2 linked regions of the Homo sapiens genome follow. The protein of the gene in region 2 binds, or shares a complex with, the protein of the main gene of each other region. Each region holds a gene or a part of one and is shown on either strand. Other genes may lie near its edges.

The links. Proteins that work in one complex are often made in the same cells at the same time.
Region 1: FLCN (region 2) and LAMTOR3 share a complex: the UniProt entries of both Homo sapiens proteins name them as parts of the lysosomal folliculin complex.

What each region holds. Positions count from the first base shown.
Region 1 is NC_000004.12:99,877,836-99,881,131, reverse strand, and holds the end of LAMTOR3 (ragulator complex protein LAMTOR3), read left to right. Parts: 3' UTR 1-2,796; downstream 2,797-3,296. UniProt on the Homo sapiens protein: As part of the Ragulator complex it is involved in amino acid sensing and activation of mTORC1, a signaling complex promoting cell growth in response to growth factors, energy levels, and amino acids.
Region 2 is NC_000017.11:17,212,900-17,216,813, forward strand, and holds part of FLCN (folliculin), read right to left. Parts: intron 3,605-3,914; coding exon 3,481-3,604; intron 2,418-3,480; coding exon 2,286-2,417; intron 2,192-2,285; coding exon 2,086-2,191; intron 958-2,085; coding exon 756-957; 3' UTR 1-755. UniProt on the Homo sapiens protein: Multi-functional protein, involved in both the cellular response to amino acid availability and in the regulation of glycolysis.

The DNA of each region.
Region 1 (3,296 bases), on a different chromosome or scaffold from region 2:
CAGCCACATGAATAAATAATGAGTGTTTCTTGTAGGTATTGGTTTGGAGATTGTTTTACGGTAGTATGAACTGTTAACTGGAAAAGAAACCTGAGATTGCAGTCAGCCAAGATTGTGCCACTGCACCCCAGCCTGGGCAACAGAGACTCCGTCTCAAAAACAAAAAAGAAAAGAAACCAAGAAACCTCAGGCATGAACCTAATTTAATCTCCATGAAAGAGGTACTACAGTTCTAGAATATACCCTTTATGTTCAGGAATGCAGTCTATCATTCAGAGTTAATTTCTTTCTAGGCTCTTTGACAATCAGTTTTTCCCTGGATCAGTTCAGTACATATGCATTGAGCACCTGTGTGCCAGTCAGCCGAGCTATCACATTGCACAATTCTAAGAAGCACCATTCATGTCTCATCATATTTCTATGCTCTGGGAGTTGCCTTTCACATAGAATATGTGTGATTGTTATCCCTAGAATTGTGCAGTGAGGCAATTGGCTAGGTGCTGTGCTGCTTTTTCTTTCTTTCTTTTTTTTTTTAAGAGACAGAGTCTTGCTGTGTTGCCCAGTCTGGAGTGCAGTGGTGGCATGATCTTGCCTCACTGTAACCTCTGCCTCCTGGGTTCAAGCTGTTCTCATGCCCCATTCTCCCTTGTAGCTGGGATTACAGGCTTACACCATCGCACTTGGCAAATTTGTGTATTTTTAGTAGAGACAGGAATTCACCATGTTGGCCAGGCTGGTCTTGAACTCCTGACTTAAAGTGATCCACCTGCTTTGGCCTCCCAAAATGCTAGGATTATAGGTGTGAGCCACTGCACCGGGCCATGTGCTACTTTTTCTTCCTTCCATCCTTCCTCCCTTCTTCAGTGTAAATATGAGATTAATTTGTGATACCTTACTTTAAAGAACTTAGAGTTCAGTAAAGGAAGCAGGTATAGAAAGTGCTATGATAAAGCTATACATAGGATGGTATAGAACCACAGACTAGGGGCACTTAAAATGGGCAAGAAAATAGCCTTTGTAAATAAAATAGAGGCAAGAGATATAATGCTTTACCTGCAAAGAGCTATAAATACAGCCATGTACCATATAATGATGTTTCAGTTAGTGAAGGACCACATACGAGGGTGGTCAGAACAGCAGGCTATACCATATAGCCTAGGTGTGTAGTAGGCTATACCATATAGCCTAGGTGTGTAGTAGTAGGCTATACCATATAGCCTAGGTGTGTAGTAGTAGGCGATACCATATAGCCTAGGTGTGTAGTAGTAGGCTATACCATATAGCCTAGGTGTATAGTAGTAGGCTATACCATATAGCCTAGGTGTGTAGTAGGCTATACCATATAGCCTAGGTATGTAGTAGTAGGCTATACCATATAGCCTAGGTGTGTAGTAGTAGGCTATACCATCTGGGGTTCCTGTCAGTACAGTATGATGTTCACATAATGATGAAATCACCTAACAAAGCATGTCTCGAAATGTATCCACATTGTTACGTAACACATGACTGTAGTTAATTGTTACAATTGAAATACTAGATGTACTCATTGAAATCCAGAATTCCCATTATCTGGATTATTTAATATCGTTCAGGAAATTTTTGCCAGTGCAATGGTGCATGAAACAATGTCTTTTAGAAATGAGGTGGCCAGATTTCTATTTGCAGATAATAATTGTATATCTAAAAATCCTAGAAAAAGAAATGATAACAAATGGAGCTACTTAACCTTTACATGTTGAATGCTGCCACTGTTAAAATTTCTGAGGGGGTATAATAGATAAACTATCCCATAGTTCATCTGGAAAAATAAGGTGGTGAAAATTGCTAAGAAATTTTTGAAAGGGTAATGTAAACCTAGATTAACTGTTTTTGAAAGGTAGTACAGAACTGAATGCACAACTAGATATCAATGGTATGTACTCACCCAGAAAAAAGACTTCAGTACATACATGTGAGGGCTTAAAACATTGTTATAAAGACGGGATCACAATGGGAAAAGGATTATTCAATAAGTAGGGCAGGCATTCTCTATGCCTGCTAGGGAAGTGTGACTTGTTATACTCTTTATGTACAGCAATTGGCAGTCTGTGAAACTTTTAAATTCATATACATAACCTTTTGCCCTGCAATTCCACTTCTAGAAATTTATCCTACCAAACAAAGCACATAGATGTGCAAAAGTATGTATTTACAAGTATATTCTTTGCAACTTGGTAATGTCAAAGAATTGGAAGCAACCTAAATATCTGCCATAGGTAGGATAACCATATGCTTTGGCTTTTTGAACACTACCAGTTTATACCTGCTGTTCTTGGATAATTATTAATAGTGCTTTCATTCTCAATGTCTCACTTTAGATAATAAATTACAGAGGATTGGTGAAACTAATTTGCCCAATGGAAAAAGGAATGAAGAAGTGCTTTAGGTACTGAGATGAAAAGATCTCTAAGGCATAATAATGTTTATTGAGAAAAGCATGGTGTCAAACTGTATGGCATGCTACAATTGATGTATAAGAAGAAAAAATGTGTATGTATTCCTATTTGTTTGTATATGGTAGACTGTCTCTGAAGACATATATGGAAGAACCTGATCACATTGGTAGTCTCCAAGGAGCAGAACTAGATACCTGGGGGATAAGGATCCCAGGAGTGAGCCTTTTCATTGTAAACTTCATTGTACTTTGAGTTTTTAACTGTTCAAAAATAATAAAATTAGAAATAAAATATTTCAACAAACAATAAAATGGGATATTTGGGGAAGAAAGTTGTCTCAGGGCTCTCCAAAGAAGCAGAACCGGTTGGACATATGTGTATTTATTTCAAGGAAATGGCTTATACTATTGCGGGGACTGGCAAGTCTAACATCTGTTGGACGGGCCAGAAGACTGAAAAGTCTCAGGTAGGAGCTGAGGCTGCAGTTTCAGAGCAGAAGTTCGTCCTCTTGGAAACTTCAGTTTTGCTCTTAAAGCCTTTCAGTTGATTGGATGAGTCTCACCCACATTATGGAGGATTATCTCTTTTACTTAAATTTAAGGGATTATAAATGTTAAGTACATCTCCAGAATACATCCACAGCAGTACCTGGATTCATGTTTTAATAACTAGGCAATGTGTCCTAGCCAAGTTGATGCATAAAACTAACGTTCACAGTCCATTCCTAGTCAGCTTGGCACCTGTATGCATCTTTTTTGTTGTTTTTTGTTTTGTGAGACAGAGTCTCACTCTGTCACTTAGGCTTGAGTGCTGTGGCCTGATCTCAGCTCACTGCAACCTCTGCCTCCTGGGTTAAAGCGA
Region 2 (3,914 bases):
AGAATAAAAGCATGGCGGGGCTCACCATATCCAGGGGATTGGGCAAGTCAGATGCTTGCCGACCCCTCAGCAACCTGTCTTGTGCAAAAATGATCAGGGACTCCATCATTAAGCCCCAGGTTACCTTCACCAGCACCTGCAGGGGAACACCCCAGAAGACGAGCCCCATGGCTTCAGAACACACATTTCAGAGGACCAAAAGATGAGGAAGAGATCCACTTCACTCCCCAAAGTCTCTTGCGGAGCCCTAACTCAATCACTCAGTGACCAAGAGCTGGCAATGTACTGAATATTCACAACTGCAGCAAAAGGTACCCTCAAACATAAGGCCCAGAAACTCTTGCTGAATTTCAAAGTAGAAACGCTTGAATGTTAACCTCGGGAGCAGACATGTTATTGCGACTGCATACTGAGTCGGACCTGTTTCTCCTGCGGGTTTTGAGTCTAAGTCCACAAGGGGCCTGGGAGGCAAGCTGTCCTCCTAGTCGTCTCTCCAAGGAGTTTGAACACAGAGAGAGCCCATCATCCCTCCGCCTTTCATTGCCATCTTCAGCGATTCCAACGGCTGGAGGGAGAGTCTGGGAAGCACACAGGCCCCAAACCTGACAGGGCCGAGCCCAGCCCTGATGGTTTCCCTTCCTTGCTGGGACACAGCTCCTTCCAGCAGTTGAGAAACTCAAGGGACAGTCCCTCTCACGGGGCTGGAGGATCCTGTGGACAGCCATCCCTGTCTTTAGGCAGGTGTGTGTGACGGGTCAGTTCCGAGACTCCGAGGCTGTGGGGCTGCGGACCGTGGACATGAGGTGTGACTTGTAGGTCTTGCTCAGGCCAGTCATCCAGAACTTCAGCAGCTTGACATTGTCCTCCTCGGACGCACCCAGGATGCTCAGCAGCTTCTGTGTGTCCTCTTTGGGTCGACTGTCCACCTTGGTGAACTTAAAAAGCACCTTCACTTTGCTGAAGAAAACCAAAACAAAACACTCAGACACCACAGCACAATCCCTCGAGCCCTGGTCACGGGGCCAACCAGGGGTGACACGGCTTTGGCACCAGCAGGAGCTGTGCAGGCAGAGCTGGAATCCACACCCTTGGGGCAGCAGGCTTGGCCCCTGAACTGCTGAAAGGAGCTGTGTCCCAGCAAGGAAGGGAAGCTGTCGGGGCTGGGCTCGGCCCTCTGTCGGGTATGGGTATGGGGCCTGTGCGCTTCCCACACCCTCCCTCAAGCTGTTGTCAAGACGCCAAGAAGAAAGAAAAACCTTCCTTAAACTCGTGGAAGACACTGGTTGCTCCTAAGCTTCACTGCATGATTTTAAATCAGGACAATGTTTGATTAATAAATTTGACCCAAAAAATTACCAAGAATCGAGGCAGGAGGAAATAAAGTAAATTTGCTTACAAAAAAAAAAACCCGGGGGGCCAGGTGCAGTGGCTCACGCCTGTAATCCCAGCACTTTGGGAGGCCAAGGTGGGCGGATCACGAAGTCAGGAGTTCAAGACCAGCCTGGCCAACATGCTAAAACCCTGTCTCTACTAAAAATACAAATATTAGCCAGGCATGGTGGTGGGTGCCTGTAATCCCAGCTACTCCAGAGGCTGAGGCAGAAGAATCGCTTGAACCCGGGAGGCGGAGGTTGTGGTGAGCCAAGATCATGCCATTGCACTCCAGCCTGGGCAACAAGAGCCAAACTCTGACTCAAAAAAAATAAAAAATAAAAATAAAATAAAATAAAAAGCGGGGTGGGGCATGGGTTACTGGGCTTTTAGGTTTTGAAGTTAATTGCACAGCAGATGACAGAGCTTCCATTATGAACCCTCCTGTGAGCTTGGAGCCCTTGCCCAAGCCTCAGTCGCTCTCCAAGGCAGGCGCCACCCCCACCTCCCCATGCAGGAGCCGGAGGCAGACATGATGACCGCCTCCCGAGGCCACCTGAGCTTTGCAGTGGCGGACGTGGAGTTGGAACCCCGCCCCCAACCTCTTCTCTCGGCTCCTCCCTCAGTGGCCACGGCCCAGCTCCTCTTTTGGAAACAGCTCCAGGTTTTCTCCAGGGTCGCAAGCAAAGGGGCCTCACCCACACTGTTGCTTACTTCATCCACTCCTCCTTGAGGCAGACGAGGCACTGGTCCACCACATCCACAGACAGGTTCTGGTTGGTCAGAGCCGCTTCAATCTTATTCAGGATGGTGGGGCCCACTGGGGAGAAGGGCAGGGGCAGAGCAAGGGCAGGCGTTAGCGCGGGGCGGGGGCATCTTCTCACAAAAAGGACACTCTGCCTGGGGGCACCCACCTCGGTCTGCAGCTACAGGGCTCCCACTGGTCACCACAAACTCGTACTTGCTGAGAGACTGGTCATCCTCACACCCCACAGGGTGGAGGGTGGAACGTGCGGCTGCGTGGACCTCCACGATGACAGCAAACTCTGTAACAACACAAGGCCCGTGGCTCCTCATCTCCCCCATGCTCCTCACCTCCCCTGCGCTAGCCCACCGTGGGCCCCACTCCGCTCATCCCAGGTCAGTGGGGAAGGCTGCTGGTGAAAAGACTGGCCCAAATCAATGCTTTGGTATTTAAAACCTTTCAGGTTATTCGTGAATAGTTAAGGGTTAACTTTTGCCTCAGTTAAACTAATAATTTATTATATTACAATAATCACAAAGTACTTTATATACATCAATTTACCTCTGGCTAAGCAGCCCTATGAGGGTGGTCTCACCATGACCCTATTCTACAGATGGGGAAACAGGCCTGGAGACGTTAAATAACCTGCTCGTAGTGGTAAGAATTTGAAGTCTGTTTGAAACCAGAGCCTGTGTTTCCAATGCTACCCGGAAAAAAGGCACTGCCTCGCAGGGAGTCAGGACCCAGCCTGGGTGCTGATTGGGGGCTCAGGGTAGCTCCACTCGGACCATGAGTCAGCAGCTGCTGGTCACCGCTGTGCTGGGGGAAGTCACTGATGAGCCTGGGGGGCTGATCCCTGGACATCCCCAAACCAAAAGACCAGGGGTTTGCTGAGCCCTGACCACACCAGTGAAGGCCGGGAAGACCTCGGGCACATGAGGTGAAGAAAAAGGCTGGAGGAGAGCAGAAGTCAGGACAGGGGAACAGTAGAAGAGTGAGGAGAGGATGGCAGGGCCCACAGAAGCAGGCAGCTCACACCCAGCATTCAGCAGGCCTCCATCTCATAGGCACCCAATCACCAGGACGACCAGGATCCTCCGGCCAGGGACACATCCTCCCACCCCACGATGGTGACCTGCAGCCCACTGACGACAGTCCCTGCCAGCCAACCTTCCCATCAGGTCCACTCACCCACCGCTACCTGTGTGAAGATAGAACACGGAGGCCCAGAGCCATGGGGGAAGCTGGCCCTGCAATGAGGCCTCCTCTCCACAACCCATGACAGAGATCTGGTTCCACTTTGGGCCTGAGGCGTGGGGAACCTCAGCGCAGGGCATGGCCCCACAGCCCGCGGGGGCACGCACCTGAGGAGAGCACGTGGGGGGGGATCTGCACGTGCGGGCTGAGCCCCAGGAAGTTGCACCGATAGGCCTCCTCGTACTGGCTGCTGTATGGGATGATGCGGACGCAGCCCACGGGAAGCATGGTCTGAGGAGGACAGCAGGACTCAGACCAAGGACACGAGGAAGCCCTCAGCCCCGGCCATCCATGCTCTACTACCCAAACCCCACACGCCTCCTGCAGCCCGGTCCAAGCCCTCCCTCCTGCCAGAGGAGTCCCCAGACTCTCAGCCCACAGTGGGGGTGAGGGGGGAGGGTCCTCCACCACCAGGTCCCTAACTCTTGTCTGGACCGCCAGTCACACACCAGCTTGTACCGCCCCTCGCTCTGTGGTGTTAACTCATATTAATGTTTGCCTGCACAGATGTTTGTCTCCTACCGCATCCCACAAAGAAGCT